Linked DNA regions of Homo sapiens: region 2 is linked to region 1. Evidence: fine-mapped expression QTL. Tissue or cell type: whole blood. Region 1 holds a variant in brackets; the other region holds the start of a gene. All regions are shown on one strand. Distances are from middle to middle.

Evidence for each region. PIP is the estimated chance that this variant, and not a neighbour inherited with it, causes the effect.
Region 2: PRXL2A starts here. The variant in region 1 is fine-mapped to the expression of PRXL2A in whole blood (TOPMed, PIP above 0.99).

The regions. Positions count from the first base shown.
Region 1 is chr10:80,436,715-80,447,056 of GRCh38, reverse strand. It overlaps PRXL2A (peroxiredoxin like 2A), which reads right to left. Exons shown (of 6, transcript NM_032333.5): 6 at 9,942-10,342. Among named protein-coding and RNA genes, the nearest start is that of TSPAN14, 12 kb to the left of the region's middle. The variant C/T (reference allele first, on the strand shown) is at 4,906.
Region 2 is chr10:80,402,486-80,412,827 of GRCh38, reverse strand. It overlaps PRXL2A (peroxiredoxin like 2A), which reads right to left and starts at 4,277. Exons shown (of 6, transcript NM_032333.5): 1 at 4,185-4,277. RefSeq lists enhancers at 1,984-2,483, 3,330-3,923 and silencers at 4,209-4,498, 8,982-9,154.

The DNA.
Region 1 (10,342 bases):
CACTTTGGGAGGCCCAGGTGGGAGAATCGCTTCAGCCCAGGAGTTCCAGGTGAGCCTGGGCAACATAGTGAAACCCTGTTTCTATTAAAAGAAAATAACAAGAAAAACAAAGGAGAGACTCAAATATGTTTAAATGATGAAGGGAGAAGGCAAGAGAAGAGGGGAGATAAGAGAGTCTGAAGGAAGAGAGAAAACGCTTGCTGGAGAAGGTGGGAAGGATTGGTGTTCAGAACAAGAGGAGAGCCCCAAACTGGAGGACAGCAGGACCTTCATAGAGACAGGAGGCAGGAAGACAAGCTGGGTGAGGATGCAGATGTTTGTGGGTTCGGTGGGGCTTCCTAAGGGAAGGGGTCCACTTTCTCTGGAAGTAGAATGGGCACCTGCTGAAGGTTAAGTGGGTGTTGGGTGGGATCCAAGGATTTCAGAGAAACCTAGGAGAGAACGAGAGACACCTCTGAGCAGGGGCAAGCAGGAATGTTTGGGGAAGGGTTGCAAGCCCAGCTGCAAATGGAGACCCAGAGTGAGAGTGACACACATCTCAGATTACATGACCTTTTTCATCAGTACTCAGCAGCTGGAGTATGTGCAAGTGCAGAGAGCACAGACAGCAGGATTGATCAAAATCTGGGGTTTGCCGGGAGAGCATGATAGAAAAACAATGGTGCAAAGGATTCCAGAAGGTTGGAAATAAAGCAGTTGAGGTGTTGTATCCTGAGGCTTGGCTACTAGGGGAGAGAAGTGACAGCTGGAGGGGCTAGTAGATAGGGGGAAAGAAGATGAGGCTGCGGCTGGAGGGCCCTCAGCATGTGAAGAAGGGAGATACGGTGACACAAGGCTGTGGTCAGACAGAGGTGTGTATCCATGGGACCAGGTGATTGAGATGGAAGAAACGGAGAAACAAATGGCCCTGAGGGTGAGGAGGTCAGGACCAAGAGGCTAGTGGGAAGATGGGTCACTCCATCAGTATATGGCAGGACTTGGAGTGCAGGCAATGGCAATGGGTTAGGCGCCAACATCTTTGGTAGAACTTTTACTTCAAGGTCAGTTTTGCACTGGTGTTGCCTTTCTTGAAGAAAGAGGTTAGGGAGCCTTGGGGAAAAGAGAACAGAAAGGAAATTTATTTCTTGGCCTGTCATTCTATACTTGGCCTATTTGTTCCAGAACAATCTATTTTAAGGAATCTGCAAACTTCTAGGAGGTTTCTACTCTTATTTGCATCTACAGCCTCAGCCATGGGACCTCTGCCTGCCAGTGGCGTCCCCTGCAAAGAATTAGGACTAAGATTTGTGATAGGAGCCCATGTGTGAGGATAAGACACAGTGGAACACCCTTTAATTATAGCATCTGAGACTGTCTAAGCAGATGGTGGTGACAAGGAGTCCTGTCATCTCTCTGCCCTCAGTTGTTCCATTTCATAAACTGAAGGTGGCAGAGAAAGAAAGGTTGTTCAACAGGTGACATCCCACGGCCCTTTCAGCCCTGTGCATCAACCACACTGTAATGACTCCACATGGGAGAAGAAAGTTTTGCCAAAGAAGAAAACCCCAGATGTGGCCAAATAAGACATCAAGGGAGGGAGCAGATCCTAGATGTTAAGAGCAAGTATAATACCAGGAATCGGACTGCACGGGCTAAGTCCCAACTCTGCCCCTGAAAGCTAGGTCCACTCAGGCCGGAGAGCTGCTCATGTCTACCCAGGGAACTATGGGATCTGTGCAGATGTCAAAGCCACTTGACAGCACAGAGTGTTACTTCTGGAATAATGTCATGCAAACTGACCTTCACAAAGCTCTGACTTAGTAACATAAATGTGGAAAGGGGGCTCAGAGGGAATCACCTAGCTGATAAGTGGTAGAAGCAGGACTGTCAGCTTTATGACCACACCTGAGTCCCCAGTCTGTCTCAATCTCACACCTAGAGATTTGAGGGTCGGCTAAGGCCCTGGGACCTCTAGGCGCAGACACTGCTAGGAGAGCCACTGAAAGTTCCCCCTACCACTACAAAGTAGGGGAGAGAGGCACACCTAGACTCATCTGAGACAGAGCAGAAAACAGATGGATGTTGCAAACATCACAGGTACCTCTCCCTGTCCCTGTCACACAGCTTTGGGGAGTTTTAGTTGGTTCCATGGAGAATCTGGTAGTCCCCGGGGAGAGCTGCGCAGCAGTTGATGCCGCGTGCATACACTGCCACCTAGAGGCAGTCTGAGGAAACTCCAAGTTTATTAAACCACGGGTGTGTGTGTGTGTGTGCGTGTGTGTCAGTCTGTCTTTCTGTGTGTTGGGGGAGGAAGGGAGGGCTTTTCAGTCCTTGTCTGGCACTGCTGATTCTCTCTTTCCTGGAGCCCTTGGCTCTCTTCCTCTACCCACTCGGGACCACGTGTCCTGCACGCAGCTCCTCCTCAGTCTCTTTGCAGATCCTGCTCCCCATTTCCTACAAATGCTACTTTTCCCAGATGCTGGGAACATCTAACACCATTTTCTTCCCCCTCTCATCTCCACAGGCTCTCTGCCCTCTGTGCCACTCTGTGTCTTTAGAATCCTCTGTGCACCGCCCCCACCCATCTTTGTGGCCAGATCCCTCTCCTGAGCTCCGGTTCCCCCTCCCTCACACTAGAAAGAAAATCTGATCCCATCAGTCCTCCTCCTGCAAACCCTTAGAGGTTCATTTCATGAACACAGCTCCTTCCATTGTTCTACAGGGATTAACCAGGCCTGGCCTCTGAGTGGGCTGCTCCAACCATATTCTGACCACAGGCCTGCCTCACACACAGTGACCTAGCCTGTCACCTCTGGTTTGTGACCACCTAGACCACACTTCAGGACCCACTGTGTTAGATTAGATCACTCACTTGGAATTGCCCCTGGCAGAAGGAAGCTGCCCCCCACCAGGGCTCTGCCCCACCCCCATCCCTGGTGCAGGGTGCAGCCTATGTCCACTAAACGAGTGATGGGTGGGAGTTACAAAGCCCCTTGTCTCATTTCGGGGCATCTGCTGGGTGATCTCAACTCAGAGCTCCTGTGGGATCAGTTGAGGCCTCACAGCTCCATGTCGCCCTCCACTCAGTCCTGCTCCCCTCACTTCTTGCATACACATTTCTGGACCAGCTTCTATTTCCTGTGCACTTGGCACATGCCATCACTTTGGCTTAGAACAGCTTTTGAGTTATTTTCCTTTGCCTGTCTGAGCACAGGAAGTAGAAAGCCACCCAGCACAACCTTGCAGCCAGGCCCTTAGGAGAACTGGCCAGCAGAGGTCAGGATCTAGTACTGCCTCCACGTCACCCACTCTCTATTCTCACTGAGACATTGGTATCTCATTTATCTCCACAGTGCCAGCAACTTCTGGCCAGCTTCCCCTCAGGGCTCCTCCCTGCCTTCTGCCGGTCAGCTGTCACCATCTGCGCCCCTTCTGGGGAAAAACTTTGTACAGGTTTTACAGGTCCCTGGCTAGTTCACAGAGGCCTGAGTTAGGGTCCAGGGTCCACCCCGGTCCAGTCGATGTGCCCAGGACCGGGGTTTGTGGTGCAGACCGTGGAGAGTCTGGGTGCCTCCAATGGAAGGTGTGGCATGGCCAACTCTGAGGTCCCCAGGATGGGACAGCAACATCTGGGCACATAATGTCTTGCCACCTGCTGCTAAGGCTGCTAACTGCAAATAATAAAGAAGCAAATTTAGAACCACATATTAGCATTTGTAACTGGTTTTAGTATGCATATACAGATCCAGTTTTGTAATGATTATATTATTATTTGTCAATTTTTAAAGGCGTTTTAAACATTTATGAGACTGAGTCATTACAGTTGGGAAGAGTGTAACTGATTACATTTAATGTTTAAATGCTCAAGGAAAATCTACTTTCTAAAAATTATCATCAACTGAAGAATGACGAGGTTCATAAATTTGGCTCTCTTGAGTCATGAAGGCTGGGGAAAGATGAGAGTCCGATAAGGGCAGCCCAGAGCTCTGCATGGCAGAGACTTTAAAGACTTCCTGCTTCAAGCAGCACCCGCTTTCCCAGGAGCTGGCTGTGCTTTGGCCCCCAGGCTCCACACCCTAGCCCCTCCTGGCCAGAGGCATCTGGCCTCCTCCTGCCTCTGTGTATAAGCAGTGCTGGGGTGAGAGCTTAGCAGCAGAACTGGCCTTCTCTCCCCCTGAGGAAGCCTAGCACAGTCATGAAGGGCACAAGGGAGGGCCAATAACAGCTGGGTCCACTGGCTCAGGAAGATTGGCACCCCCCAGGACACTTAGCTGGATTTGTGTCCCTTTCCAGGCTCCTGCCCATACAGGCCCATGAGATTTCCTATGCTCCTTGAATCAAATGGATTTCTTACAGTTCTATGTGGCCTGAGTTTCACAACACAAATAGCCCTCTCTGAGGGGCTAAGGGTGAGGGCACAAAACTTCTTGTCAGTGAACTAGCTAGAGAGGTTTACCAAGCACGCAGTATGGTGCATTTTTATTACTCTGTTAAAAGTGTGTGATTAGTTAATATACTCATATGGAACAGATTATAAAAGTTCAAAAGGGTATTAAAAGGGACATTCTCCTTTATGTCCCCAATCACCAGTATCCTGTTCCTAGAGCAAATACTGTTACAAGTTTTCATGTATTTTCTCATAAATATATTATGGCAGACACTGCTGGTTTTTGTTTTTTTCCCCAAATCCATTCTTTCTTCTTCGTCATCATCTTTTGTTTTGTTTTCTTTTGTTTTTTGAGGAGTCTTGCTCTGTCACCCAGGCTGGAGCACAGTGGCACAATCTTAGTTCACTGCAGCCTCCGCCTCCCGGGTTAAAGTGATTCTCCTGCCTCAGCCTCCCAAGTAGCTGGGATTACAGGTGTGCGCCACCACGCTTGGCTAATTTTTGTATTTTTAGTAGAGATAGGGTTTCACCATGTTGGC[C/T]AACTGGTCTTGAACTCTTGACCTCGGGTGATCTGCCCCTTGGCCTCCCAAAGTGCTGGGATTATAGGCGTGAGCCGCCTCTCCGGGCCTGAAGGGCATTCTTTCATAGCAGGGACAGGAACAAGCCCAGGCTGTTCTGGCCAGTTCCTCCTGACCTCAGGCTATTGCATTCCCAGCACATTCTACAGTTATTCTTGAGAACTACAGTGAGAAAGCTGGGAGAACTGGGTCAGTCCAAGGCCATCTGGAGAACTGCTCTGTAGTCCATCCGAAACCCAGATATCCCCCTTAGCGAAGCTGGTCAATTTCATATCCCACCAACCTCCCTGGATTTGGAGGCAGGGGTTTGGTCTGTCTCATTAGTTCGAGAACACTTTAACTGACACAATCCCAGTGAGACATCATTAAGCCATAGCCAGAATCCATTTCACGAGGCCCAGGAGGACCCCTACAACTGCAGAATAACCAGGGCTGCCTGGAGCATGACCTAGCCTTGGACACAGCGATCCAGTTAAGAAGTCGCTATGGAAGTCTAAGAAGGATCCTTCAGGTGGCCCCACTGTCTGCAGCCAGTGGGCCTGCTCCTGAATTTTTTCTGCTTGTGAGGGTCTGCTCCTGAATTTCTTCTACTTGTGTGTCTTTTCTTTCCTTTTTTTTTTTTTTTGTTTTTGAGATGGAGTTTTGCTCTTGTCGCCCAGGCTGGAGTGCAATGGCACAATCTTGGCTCACTGCTCACTGCAACCTCCACCGCCCGCGGTTCAAGCAATTCTCCCACCTCAGCCTCCTGAGTAACTGGGATTACAGGCACCTACCACCATGCCTGGCTAATTTTTGTATTTTTAGTAGAGATGGGGTTTCACCATGTTGGCCAGGTTGGTCTCTAACTCCTGACCAAAGGTGATCCGTCCACCTTGGCCTCCCAAAGTGCTAGGATTACAGGTGTGAGCCACCGCGCCCAGCCTACTTGTGTTTCTATGAAATCTGATGTGCTTATCCAGGTACAGCAGGAGGTGTTAACAATTGCACACACTCCTCCCACTTGGGCTAAAAGAAAGTCTAGAGCAATATTGGTATGTAAAACAATCTTCCCAAGAGAAATGAAGGATGTCTGCAGGGCTGCCAAAACAGTGGCTGTGAAGGAGGCAACATCTGCCATGGTCAGGGACAGATTTCTTATCATTCTTTTATGAGCACTGACTCCTAGGTAGGTACCAAAGAGCTCATAAAGAACATGAACCCAGAGTCAGTTACACCTCCTGGCAGGCTCCCTAGTCAGCCTGGTGTATAGCTTTAGGCTGCTAGCCCAGTGGTGCATCTCATTTCCAGGGGTGATATCCAATGGCACCCCCAGCCCATCTAATGTGCAGAATTTCACCATCCACTAGCATTCTACTCTCTGCTTTTATGGGTTCCTTTTTTTTTTTTTTTTTTTTTTTTTGAGATGGAGCCTCACTCTGTCGCCCAGGCTGGAGTGTAATGGTGTGGTCTTGGCTCACTGCAACTTCCACCTCCCAGGTTCAAGCAATTCTCCCACCTCAGCCTCCCAAGCAGCTGGGATTACAGGTGCCCGCCACCAAGCCTGGCTAATTTTTCTATTTTTAGTACAAAAATACAAAAGAGATGGGTTTCACCATGTTGGCCAGGCTGGTCTCGAACTCTTGACCTCAGGTGATCCACCCGCCTCAGCCTCCCAAAGTGCTGGGATTACAGGCATGGGCCACCGCGCCTGGCCTATGGGTTCAATTTTTGAAAAAAAAAAAAAAAAAATTCCACAAATAAGTGAAGCCAGGCACAGAAAGACAGATACTGCATGATCTCACTTAACGTATGGCCTCCAGGTTCACCCATGTTGTCACAAATGACAGAATTTCCTTATTTTATTATTTTTTAAAGATGGGGTGTGGCTATGTTGCCCAAGCTGGTCTCAAACTCTTGGGCTCCAGCAATCCTCCCATCTCAGCCTCCTGGGTAGCTGGAACTACATGTGCACTAACACACCCAGTGTTAGATTTCCTTCTTTTTAAAAGCTGAAAAGTACTCCTTTGTGTACATATGCCACATTTTCTTTATCCATTCATCCATTGATGTATACTTATCTTGGCTATTGTGAATAATGTGCTGCAAAGAACGTGAGCATGCAGGTATCTCTTCAACATACTGGTTTCATTTCCTTTGGGTAAATACCCAGTAGTGGGATTGCTGGATCATATAAGAACTCTATATTAAGGAACTCTATACTGTCTTCCATAATGGCTGTACTAATTTACATTCCTGCCAACAGTGTGTAAGGGTTCCCTTTTCTCCACATCCTTTCCAACGTTTGTTTCTTTTGTGTGTTTGTTTTTGTTGTGAGACAGAGTCTCGCTCTGTTGGCCAGGCTGGAGTGCAGTAGCATGATCTCGGCTCACTGCAACCTCCACCTCCTGGATTCAAGCGATTCTCCTACCTCAGCCTCCTGAGTAGCTGGGACTACAGGTGCGCACCACCATGCCCGGCTAATTTTTGTATTTTTAGTAGAGACAAGGTTTCATCATGTTGGCCAGGCTGGTCTCAGACTCTTGGCCTCAAGTGATCCACCTGCCTCAGCCTCCCAAAGTGATGGGATTACAGGCATGAGCCACCGTGCCCGGCCCCAAGATCAAGAATTTTGACTGACTCAGACTGTGCTGGGAGAGCATTTAGTGTAGCAAGTGGGACCAGCACATCTTGTTGGATGAAGAGTGCAATTAGAGGCATCTTCTGCTGGAACAAAGCTCTGCAAGGAGCTGCCCTGTGGACAGACTGAGAGAGGCATTTTCGGGGACTCAGGTATCTCCCACTGGCCACCCCTTGGCAACTCTCACTCTAATTATGGCTGGACCTGGGCCTTAACGAGTGCTTCTGCAATGAGAAACTTCCATCATCAAGTCTTCGGTAACTTTCAAGTAACAAAGGCAGGATAAATGCTTGTCTTTCTTTACCAGGTTTCAAATGAGTTGCTTTCTTAGCATCATCCAGAGATTTTCTTTTTTTAAAGGATCATTATGAACTCATTGATTTGAACATCTGATGTGTTTTAATTCATTGCCATTATTCTTATTGATGCTCAAAGAGTCCCATCTTTGGCAAGTGAGAGTTGTCTCCTGAGTCTGTCCTTTATACAAGCCCTTAGTGGTGATTGAGAGCTTGCTTGGTATCTGGTACAACAAGATGTTACAGGCTCATCTTGTACATTTTCTGCCCCAACCCTGCAATCAGCCATTTCCCCAAGGAGTTCCCTTTAGCAGAAACTGATATTGGAAGACCATGTTCTGGGCTCAGCTGTCTCTTGAGAGACTTTATTCATGTTTCCTGGCTGAACACCATGGAAATTAGGGCATGGGTGTCTCTTAACTAACTTCAGAACAGACATGGACGACTACTTGGCACGAAAGGGGAAAATTCCTCTGCTTCTTAAAAGATTTCACAATTGTTTGTCAAGGTAAGGCAGTGGTCTTCCACCTTGCCTACATACTAGAATCCCCTAGGGAGCTCTAAAACATACTGATGCCTGGATCGATCCAGCCCCAGAGATTCTGGTTTAACTGGACTAGGATCTGGACTGAGCAATGGCATGTTTTTTCTTTTCGTTTTGTTTTGTTTAGTGTGAGGCTCGCAGATGGGGCTCAACCCTGACTGTAATTATTCTGTATTTGTCTTTACACTTTTACCATCTATATATGGAGCTTACACAATACTGTTTGCAAGCCTTACACATTTATGTAAACTGTATCCTACTGAATGTACATTCTGAAGCTTTTTTCCTTCCTTGTTTCGGTGCATCCAAGTTGATACTTATACCTCTCATTCATTCATTGTAACTATTATAGCACAGTAAAACCTTCTACTACCCCATCATTTTCTGCTGTAAAATGATCAAAAATTCATGAGCAGTTAGTTGTCCAGGAGAAAAATCATGAAGGTAACCCTGACTGCTCTTTTTCTTACATCCTATATCCAAATAGTTCAAGAATCCTCTTAGCTCCTCTTTCTGTCACATCCTACATCCAACAGTTAAAGAATCCTCTTAGCTCTGCCTTCAAATATATCCATCATGACGCTTCTCACTATCTTCTGTGCTCCCACCTGGTTGCCACCACCATTCTCTCTTGCCTGGATCATTGCACCAGCCTCCCAAATGGGCTCCCTGCTGCCACCTTTGATCCTCTAAAATCTATTCTCTCAAAGCAGCCAGAATAATAGAAATCAGATCATGTCACTCTTCTAAAAACCCTCTAAACGAATTCCCATCGCTCCCAGTAAAATTTAGAATTGCCTCCTATCCCCTACTGCAATAACTAGTGTGTGGGTTGACCTTGACCATCATTATATAATACAGAAAGGTGACCAGGTACAGCTGGAAGAAGCATGTCCTTGAAAGGACCTCCCCACACCTCCCTAATCCAGGGATCTAACCCACTATCATCCTCAATTGTTACTGTCTTCAAAACAAAATGACAAATCCTCCTTTAAATGTAGAAAGGATTTGAAGGGTTAAATGAGAACAAATCAACTTTCTTTCCCTTCCCCTCCCAAACATAAACTGACAAATACACACCTTCTTGCTTGCCCCATGGGGCACTGGCAACCCAGAATGGAGGGAGGGCAGCTAGTGCTGGGAAGAAACTGCAGTCTGCCCTGACTGCATCCACCCTCTATCCTCACAGCCCCTACAGCCTCTTCCCCACAGCTCACCTTCCCTGCCCTCCACTCCCCTACACTGCAATGGTATGCTTTGCTCTGGGAAAGAGAGGAAGCAGACACAGGCATTGCTTTTGAGAAATCTGCATACTGGGAGAGAGGACATAGAACCAGGTAAACAAAACAGACTAGACTCCTCCGTTTTCCCCTAGCCATGCTTCGCTATCCAAATCTCTGCCTTGGAAGTTCCTCCAGCTGGGGGTTCCCCATGCACCCCTGTCCACACCATCTGTGACCCTTGCCACTGCTAGGGCCAAGGAAAAACTCGCCCTTCACCCGCTGCAGACTTGCTGAAAAAATCACTGACAAGAGGCAAATTAACAGGAGAAAAAGCAAACAAATTTATTTGATCATAATTGTATGTGAGCCCTCAGAATGAAGACCCCAAGATACAGGGGAATTGTCCATTTTTATGTTTAGGTTCAACAGATTATGGACTGTGTAGAAATATGATTGGACAAGAAGGGTATGATCTAATAGTAATAGACTGAGAGGGGAAACCCAGCAAGGCTGTCTAGATTCTTCTTGGCCTCTCTGTGCAGGATTCCTTCCTTCTGGGCACGGGGTGGGACCCTCTCTGGAATGGGTATCTTACGACAGTCAAACACGGTAGGTCAGATCATTTCTTTCCAACCAGTTTTTACACAGAAAGGGGAATGGGGAGTGAGAGGACTATTTTTAGGTTTTATGGCTGGCTTTGGGTAAAACCGGTTCTGGT
Region 2 (10,342 bases), 34 kb after region 1:
TCCTCAGCAAGCCAGCTGATGGGGCCCTCCACAGCTTGGCTTCAGCAAGTGTTGCTCATGTTGTTTCCTTTGCCCGGGATGCCCCCCTCTGACCCAGGCCAACCACGTAAATGCCTACTTATTCATAAGGCCCAGCACACATAACACTTCCTCTCCAAAGCCTTTCCTGAAAGCCCTGACAACTGACTGCTCACTGACCTCTTCTATAGCGTGCATGTGTGTGCGCACACACCCATAACCCTGCACAATGCACAAATGAATTGTGTAAATTTTAGTTATTTACATGTCTGTCTCCACAATATGTTGGCACAATGTGTTGTCGTCTTCATTCCTGCATCCCCAGCACTCAACACAGATCCTGGTAATTATCAGGCATTAAATGTTAATTAAATTATCTGAATTTTACTCTTAGAATTCCACAGTGAGGCAGACTTGGAACTTATAACTACTCAATTCCAATTTCAGTTCAGTATGAAAGGCAATTTTGGACAGGGCTGGCTTGATATTAAAGAAAACACTCTAGCTTGGGACTTAGGTAACCTTAGGCTGGGTCCTCGCTCTACTGCTCACTAGCAGGGCAATCTGACTTAAGGTATGAAGACACTCGGGGCCTGGATCTCATCATCTATACAGAGGAAGGAACTCAAAATTCTATGAGGTTGTCTTAGCTCTGACATCCAAAGACTCTAAAGTACCATGTGACTGCAACTACAGGGATCTGATGTCTAGAAAGCCATGGGAACCCCTGCCACCACTGTTCTTCTGCTGGGTGTGCACATTCACCCTGCCTCCTTTGCTGGGCCTAACTCCTGACTGTTCCAGGAGCTGCCTCTGGGCAGGAACTGATAAAGTCTTAATGAAACAAAGTATCAGCACTGGCTGAGTTAAATCATGTCTGAAACAAGTAGAGACAGCATCATATTCTAAACATCAAGGGTACACCTGCCCAGCCCAGCCCCACCCAGGGAATCGTCCCTCTTCAGAATGAGCTGGCCTGAGGCAGAGATAGGGGAGAAGCAAGAAAAGGTGCTGAGGGAGACAAAAAACTAAGAGTGCACATGGGCCTCCTTGCCTCAGGCCCTCAGTGAACAAGTCTTGAAAGGATGCTTCATCTTCCTTCTCTGGTCTCCTCTGTTTCCCTCTCCTTCCCTCAAAGCGCTGGTTCAGCTCATTTTACTGAGCAAATGAAGAAACTAAAGCTCAGAGAAGGAGCTGGCTAGTCCAAGGTCACATGGGCAGGGCAGGTTGTCAGTGGCTGCACTGGGACTCAGGTTTGGGTCTCCCAACTTCCAGTCCATGACTGTTTATCCTGCATCAGACACGCTAGGTCCTGGGCAGCCAGCCAAGGGCCAGTGGCCTCTAAGGCTGGAATAGCATGGCAGTCTGGGCTCAGGAAGTGGGGCCCTGCAGGTCTTGAAGCCTGTTCACTGGCCTCAGGCAAGCTAAGAGCAAGACTGCCCGTAAACAGGGCCTGGGAAATCTGCTGCCTGGAGAGAACATCATCAGCCTCTCCCAAGCCCAATCCTTGGTAAGCAGCTTATAATCTGAAGCCAAATGTCTTAAGGGTCTCATTGCCTAGTCTCCGCTGAGAAGCCATTCTGCACCTCTCTTCCCCACAATAACAAGACTCTGTCCATCCTTGTCTAGCATACTGATGATGCAGGCACACAGAGCCTTATGAGCAACAGATGCCCTTCCACCCACCCTTGTCTTCATATACCACAAAATCAGTCACTTGCAATGAGCTCTCACCTACCTGCCTCAGTCTCCAACTCTCAGCCCTGCTCCTTGGGGTGTGTATCTGCCTGGTTCTGGCCCAGTCCTACTCTCAAATGCCAGATTCAGAAACCTCTGAATAGATGCTGAAAGCAGCACCAGCCCCCACATTCCTCACTCTTGGGCGTATCTCAGGGTTTCCCAGTAGCTGATTATGTCCTCTTGTTTCCTCAAGCTGTAGGGCCCCCCACCCCTCAAAGAGCAAGCCATTCTAATCTCACTTGCACAGCCTCCTGTCTGGGCTCAGAACTCCGGCTTCATCAAGTTATATGGGTGTGGATAGGAAGGCAAGGCAATACCACAGAAGACACTGGGCTAAAAGCCAATAATCCTGGGTTTTCTCTCTTTGACTCTGAGAGTTATTTTATCCCTCTGAACCTCAGTGTCTTCTTAAAAACAAGGGCACTTTAAAGAGTTGTCATAAAGATTATATAAGAAGAGCAATTTTTAATGCGGTAACGCACTAGAAAACGGCAAAGCAGCATTATCTTTCTCTCTTTTGCAGGGCTCAGATTCACTCGTGCCCCTATAAAGACAGGATATCTGAAGCAGGACAGGCACAAAATAGTGAACTTCTGCAGCTGTGTCACTGCAGGCCTGCTTTCTGGTGAACGTTCTAGGTCTGGTGGGAACACTGGCTTGTCTCAGCCCCTCTGGCCTGCAGGCCCGCTCCATGCTATTCCTGTAGCAGCTAACACTGCCTCCTGCACTAGCAGTGCCAGAGAAGGCAAAGGACACTGCCCAGCTGTAATTTCCCTGTGCCAGAGGCCACTGAGCTCAAAGGTGAGGCTGGCTCTCTGCACAGAACCTCAGGATGGTTCTTGCCACACAAGCCACAGCAGAGAGACTTGGAGCTTCTGCTCAACATTTCACAAAGAAGCAAGAACCCAACTGGCAGGACAGCTGCCCTATTGCTTAGATAGGGACAGAGCCTGGGGCTTGAGCCCTAGAGTTCCAGTCCTATCCAAACTTTCTGAGCACCATTTAAATGACACGAGATGAGAAAATCATCAGAAATGTCTTTTGTACCCCTTCAGAAGTAATGCAGAAGGTCTCAACTAAATGACATGCTCTTATAAAAGACGGGGATATAGGAAAGGCCCACACCAAGAATAATATCTAACTTTAATTCTTGCAAGCTGTATAAACCTGGACAAGGAACTGTTTTGCATCAGTAAAATGGGAATGCTTCCTTAATTACCTTCTACAGAGTTGCAAGAATCAAAGGATTAAATGTATAGGAGGTGCCTTGTGAGGTACCTTACAAAAAGTGCAATAAATACGATGTATAATTCTTCATTTCTAGAGCAATGATTACCCTCAAAACGTTATTTGTACACAAAATGAAGAGTTTTCTGATGAATGAGTATGGTAACGAGTCGGGGTCTGCAGTGGAAATCCCAATCCTCATTCTCCAAAGCTGGGCCCGAGCAGGAGCATTCAAGACTATTCAAGCTGACTTTTTCACAATGCTTTTCAAAACAAATCTTGATTATTTTCTTTTTGAAAAACCACCTGCCAGGTTCAAAGGAAAATACATTAAAATAAAACAAACAAAAAAGCTGAGTTCTGGGTTGCTGGGCTGTGCAGACAGCATGATGTGGCAAGGAAAAGAGGCGCAGGAGCAGCTGGGAACCCCGGTCCGGCAGTGGACTCCCGGGTGTGCCTCCTTCCCACAGCCCTGGACCGGCTGGGCCTTGACTTCCCTTCCTTTGCCTCTAACCATCTCCACCTGCGCCTTCACCTCCCGCTCCAGCAACAACCCTGGGGGCAGATTGTTCATCTTTTCATTCCTAGACCTCAGCAGGGCTGTTAAGTTTACAACTGGGCTCTACCCAATTTAAAGTCAGGCGTTTGTGACTCTTGGGAAAGAGGGGGAACAGGTGCCTCCGAAACGCTGAACAACGCTAGAAACCGTGCCCTCTTAAAAGACACGACCCTAAGCGGGCACAGAGACGAGGACGAGGACTGCCAGGTCCGCACCTGGGGCTGGTCCAGCAGGGCGGCCCCCGGGCCCATGCTCCAGGGCAGGGCCCTCTCCTCTGTTCTTTGTCCCAACAATTCGCGAAGGTTGGCGCCACCGGCGTCACTCAAGGCTTGCGGGCGTGGACAGAGGGGGCCCTAGCCCGCCGCAGCAGCGCCGGGTCCCCGTCTCCGTTCTCCGACGTCTGGGCGCAGGGTTTTTCCATCGGCCGCCACGCAGGGTGGCGGAAGGGTCGTCGTCCTCGGAGGGAGCGCCAGCGCTGCGGCGGCTCCTAAGAAAGTTGGCGCGGGCCCGAGGGGCGCGCCTCACCAGCCCAGCACCCACCCTACCGGCCCTGCACTGCCTCAGTTTCCCCACCTACGCCGCGGCAGGCCCCGCCTACGGACATCACGTGCCTCGCGGAGCCCCGGCGCGCAGCACCTACCTCAAGTGCCTCCCTTCTGCCGGCCTTTTACCGCCCCGACGCCCGGGCGCTAAGGGGCCAAACCGCCCGGCCCGGAGGGTCCCAGGGGCGGGCCCCGCGCTTGCGCAGCCTCTAGCCTGTGCTGCATCGCGCGCTACCGCGCCACCGCCATGTGACCCGCCCCGCCCCCCGTGGGAGGAGCTCCGGGCCTGCCCCCGACTCGCCGACCTCCGGGCCGCGGTCTCCTAGCTCCGGTGGCGCTCGGGCGTGTGCCCCAGCGGTCCTTTTACGCACAGCGCTCGGTCGGTCCACTCCTCAAGTCCGCGAACCGAGGCCCCGACGCGTTCTTCAGGGCGCTGCCTAGGGCAAAAGAAGGCGCTGGACACCCCTAATGGAGCCTGGAAGCACCTGTCCTGCAGCCGAGGCTGGCCAACTTCCTTCCAATCTTCAGCCTGGTTTTGAATAGCTCTTTTGATAGGTTTTTTTTTTTTTTTTAACCTCCATGGGCAGGGGGAATCTAAAGGACCGACACATTCGATGAGCCCCTTCAAGCTGTATGTACAGATTCAGAATTTCCAACCTCAATCCTCCACCCACGTTCCCTTTCACTCCACAATGCCAGCTATGGGGCAGAGAACGGTGAGCCGCAGCCTTGCGGACTCCGGGCGACGCTGAGGCGGGTGTGTCACACACCGCTCATCCACTTACTCCTCCTGTTGGAAGTGCCCACTCTTTCATGAAAGTAGGAGGTTGTGTCCGGCGCGCTGGCTCACGCCTGTAATCTCAGGGCTTTGGGAGGATCGCTTGAGCCCAGGAGTTCAAGACCAGTCTGGGCACCATAGTAAGACTCCATCTCTACGTAAAAAACAAAAACTAGCCAGGCATAGTGGCGCGTGCCTGTATTTCCAGCTACTCTGGAGCTGAGGTGGGAGGATCGCTTGAACCCGGGAGGCGGAGGTTGCAGTGAGCCCAGATCGCGCCACTGCACTCCAGCCTGTCTTTAAAAAACAAAAAAAAGACCCTGTCTTAACAACAAAAAACAAAAAGTAGGAGGTTGGACTTTCAGAGACAGCAGAGCTGACTCACGATACATATTAGTGGTTGGCCGGGCTCGGTGTCTCATGCCTGTAATCCCAACACTTTGGGAAGCCAAGGCGGGCAGATCACTTGAGGGCAGGAGTTCGAGACCAGCCTGACCAACATGGCAAAACCTCGTCTCTACTAAAAATACAAAAATTAGCCGGGTGTGGTGGCGCGCACCCGTAGTCCCAGCTACTCAAGAGGCTGAGGCAGGAGAATAGCTTGAACCCCGGAGGTGGAGGTTGCAGTGAGCCGAGATGGTGCCACTACACTCCAGCCTGGGTGACAGAGTGAGATTCCGTCTCAAAAAAAAAAAAAAAAGACATATCGGTGACACAGTGCAAAGACCAGTCACAGGGCAGCATAAGGTGAAGTGGCAAAGCAGGCCGATGTCCGCCCGTCAAAGGTGGTCATTTGCCTGCAACACCTTCCCCCCTTCATCTGGGAGCTGCCCACAGGTGTACAAAGTCCAAAGGCTTCCGTGATTCACCTCCCTGACTTCCCACTCAGACTCCATGTTCCATGTAAACTTACAGCAACACTTGGGGAGCTTGATCTATTCAAGGGGGTCTCTCCTCAACCAAACTGTGAATTCCTCCACTTCACCTCTGGGACCCTAGAGCCTGGCCCAGGGACAGCGTGGAAATAAACTTAGAAAACGTGAGAGGTGGATCTAAGTTGTGGGGTAAGGGAGATCAGCCTGAGTGCCCATGCAGTTTTCCTGCAGGAGTTAGGCATATGATTTGAAGGCCAGAAAATATTTCGTATACTTTGGTGCAATGCGGGTGTAGTTTTATATATATATATATATATATATATATATATATGATATATAAGATATATATAAGATATATATGAGATATATAAGATATATATGATATATGTATAAGATATGTATGATACATATATCTCTCTCCAGAGGACCTTTCTTTCTTCTCCCTTGTTTCTCCTTACCTTGTGAAGAGGAGCGGGAGAAGGGTCAATCTTTCCATCCCAAAATAGGAAGTTCAAAGGTGAGGAGGGTTTGCAGGGAAGGCCACTTAGAACAAAACAGGAAGTCATTTCCTTGGGAAATGAGTTCTTGGAGACTGACCATTAATGACAGAGCCATTCAGGGGTTGAGGATAGCAGAATTCTGGGGTGGAAGGTCCCCTGAGGCTTTAACTGTGATGTAATTACTAATCACGTGCAAAAGTCATGCTTATATTTACACTTCGGTAACATCCTGAAGATCTGGACTTCAAAAACCAGGCTACATCTGATAGCTAATTAATATGCTCCTCACATGCCCACGTTTCTTTTTGTACAAGAAAGCACAGGCTGAACTCATTAAAAAACAGTCATTAGACCAGAAAAATAAGTTACAGGCAAGCAGGCGCAGGAAAACTTATTTACAAAGCTCAAGGACTAAAACCAAAAACCAAACCAAAACAAAAAACCTGAAGAATAAACCAAGAAAACCCACCAACCTGCCCAGCTTTTAAGAGAAAAATAATTTAAATTTTGTAAAGATTGTAAAATAGCCTTAGGTTCTGAATTTCAGGTGGTAGAAATTAAGGTTGACTAGAAGCTTTGTGATAACTTTAGATAATGTTACCATCTTGACAGGGGCTGGGAAACTTTTCTGTCCCTCACAAGTCCCATAGGGCAGGCAGAAAACACTGCTTGCAGGAGGCAGATCTGGGTAAAGACTCCTGACTTTTTCAGCGTCATAGCACTTCTAGATTCAGCTGGCTTCAGCTTCGTCTGCTACTCAGCAGTGACTGAAGTAACATGATCTTTTTAAGCTTATGGCCCTGTGGTGTCTGGGCTCGCTGGGAACAGTCAGGAAGCAGCTAGCATCAAGATGAAAATAGAGCAAAAACTGATACTTCACTTCAATATGTCAGGCCCAGGTTACCATTCTGTGGATGGGTAAAAGCGAAATCAAGAACAAGACTTGTATGTGAATCTCAAAAATAGATGTGCATAGATCAGCTTCAAATATTTTCTCTATATGCCAATATCCCTGAATTCAGCTCTTTCTTATTTGTTTTAAGCATAAAAAATCCTATACTTCCACAGTGTGTCTCAAAGCAAAGCAAAGTCAATAGGGACCTCTTTCTAAAACCTTCCATAAATGTGGCCAATGGTTTACCAGGTGAACCGATGGCTGACTGAGGGCTAGATGGTGGTATTATTCTGCCCCCAGGTTGAGAAAGCAGGATTGTCTCAAGTGTCCTCAACCATCATTGCATGCACTACCAACTAACATTAACTGAGTCTTTATTCAGTTAGGAAGCTTTGATTTGCAAGTTAACAGAAAACCCAATTCCAGTTGCCTTGAGGTGATCCTGTGGTTTCATGATGTCATCAACAGTCGAGGTTCTCTTGCTTCTCTGCCATTATCCATGTGTTGGCTTCATATTAAGGATGGTTCTCCCTATGGTCATAGGATGATTCCTAGGATCCAACATGGGGAAGGGGCAGTTAGACTAAGGAGTGAACAAAACCCAGATCCTCATACTGATTGGCCAGTCATTGTGGCCAGGGTACTACTGCACTCTAAGTCTAGGTTCATTCCCAACTCATCTATCCCTGTGTGCACACTTAAAAAGAAAAAATATAAGTGAAATGAACAGGATAAGGCATTCCTTAGATATCTTCACATTCAAAGCCCAACTCTTTCGTTTTTTGTTTTTTTTTTGTTTTTTTGTTTTTTTACTATTTTTAGACTTAGAGTTGCTGATTTCTGGATTTGTCACACAATATTATCCTCTGACCATTAGAAACATTGGTAACACAGCATTTCTTAAAGGGTGCTCCATATAGCCTTCTGCTCAACATCAGCAGAAGTTTTTGACAAAAAGATGTTTGACATCTTAATGATAGTCCTTCAAAACAAATGAATTGATGACACCAACCTTTCATTGCTTTGGAATTCCTTTTATCCATTTCAAGAGATTTGGCAACTTTTCCAGTGCCTTACAATTCTTTTGTGTGTTTCTCAATAGCAAAACATAATAGACTTCATTTGTGTGTGTATGTATAGCTTTCTTAGGTTCCATAAGTGTCTCAATTGTTGCTCTGCAAGAATATAGGAAAATGAAGTAATTCTTCTGATAACAAAAGTTGCTTTACTAATATCAAATTTATGTTCCACTGCTCTGATTTTATGAATTTCTGCATTTGCAAAAACTTTTTCATTTCAGTGTCAAATCTTGGAGTAATATTTTAGAAGATTTTACTGTTTAAAAAAATAGAGGCCGGGCGTGGTGGCTCACCCCTGTAATCCCAGCACTTTGGGAGGCCAAAGCGGTGGGATCACGAGGTCAGGAGATCCAGACCATCCTGGCTAATACGGTGAAACGCCATCTCTACTGAAAATACAAAAAAATTAGCCGGGCGTGGTGGCGGGCAGCTGTAGTCCCAGCTACTCGGGAGGCTGAGGCAGGAGAATGGCGTGAACCCGGGAGGCGGAGCTTGCAGTGAGCCAAGATTGCGCCACTGCGCTCCAGCCTGGGCGACAGAGCGAGACTCCGTCTCAAAAAAATAAAAATAAATAAAAATAAATTTTAAAAAAAGGCCGGGCGCGTGGCTCACGCCTGTAATCCCAGCACTTTGGGAGGCCGAGGCGGGCGGATCATGAAGTCAGGAGATCGAGACCATCCTGGCTAACACGGTGAAACCCCGTCTCTACTAAAAATACAAAAAAATGAGCCGGGCTTGGTGGCCGGCGCCTGTAGTTCCAGCTATTCGGGAGGCTGAGGCGGGAGAACGGCGTGAACCTAGGAGGCGGAGCTTGCAGTGAGCCGAGATCGCGCCGCTGCACTCCCGCCTAGGCGACAGAGCAAGACTCTGTCTCAAAAATATGTATATAATAATAAAATAAAAAACAAAAAAATAGAGATGGAGTCTCACCATGTTGCCCAGGCTGGTCTGAAACTTCTGGACTCAGGCGATCCTCCACTGTTAGCCTCCCAATGTGTTGGGATTACAGGCGTCAGCCACTGCACCTGGCCCTAGAAGATTTTATAGAGCATTTAAAGTCAACTCATGGAGTACAAGCAATGTCCATAACTCAACTGAAGGGTCAACAATCTAAGCAGCTATGACTACATTGACGGGTGTGCAGGCAATGACAACTGTCACATCTGTTACTACAATAGCAGTCATAGGACACCACTAATTGTAATGCGTGACCCAATTTCAGACATGTTAAAATGTGAAAAAATGAGCAACTTAGAAATTACAAGCTTTGCTATTCTATAATCAAGTAGAGTTTAGTCCAGGATTGTAAGCGGGTGTCAACATTAGTAGATCTATTAGTCCATATGAACAGAAAACAGGAACAAAACTGCTTATCATATTAATAGATGCTGAAAAGAAATCCAGTTAAAATTGTAGAATTTCCTAGTCATAGCCCTAAGTAAAATAGAAATAAAAGCAAATCACTTAAATATAATAAAAATTCTTTATCGAACACTGAAAGCAAATTTCTTACCTGGAAAAATGTTGATTTCAATTAAATAAGGAACTAGCCCTTTATCTCCATAGTATTGGAGTATTAAAAATGCAATAAAAATGAAATTATGTAAACATTGGTAAAGACTATCACTTTTGCTAATCATATGATTTATCTTTATTTTTATTTTTTGAGACAGGGTCTTGCTGTGTCGCCCAGGCTGGAGTGCAGTGGCACGATCATAGCTCATAGCTTACTTCAGCCTTGAACTCCTGGGCTCAAGCAATCCTCCCACCTCATCCTCCTGAGTAGTTGGAACTGTAGGAATATGCCACTATGGCCCACTAATTTTTATTTTATTATCTTATAGAAACAGGGTCTCACTATATTGCTCAGGCTGGTCTCAAACTCCTGGGCTCAAACCATCTTCCTGCCTCAGCCTGCCAAAGTGTTGACATTACAGGCATGAGCCACTGGACCTGGCTTTATTTTTTTTTTTGTAGAGATGGGGTCTTGCTATGTTGACCAGGCTGTTCTTGAACTCCTAGGCTCAAGCGATCCTCCCACTTTAGCCTCCCAAAGTGTTCGGGATTACAGGCATAAGCCACCTTCTGGCTAACTAACCTCAGATATTCTATTAAAAGTGACTGGAATT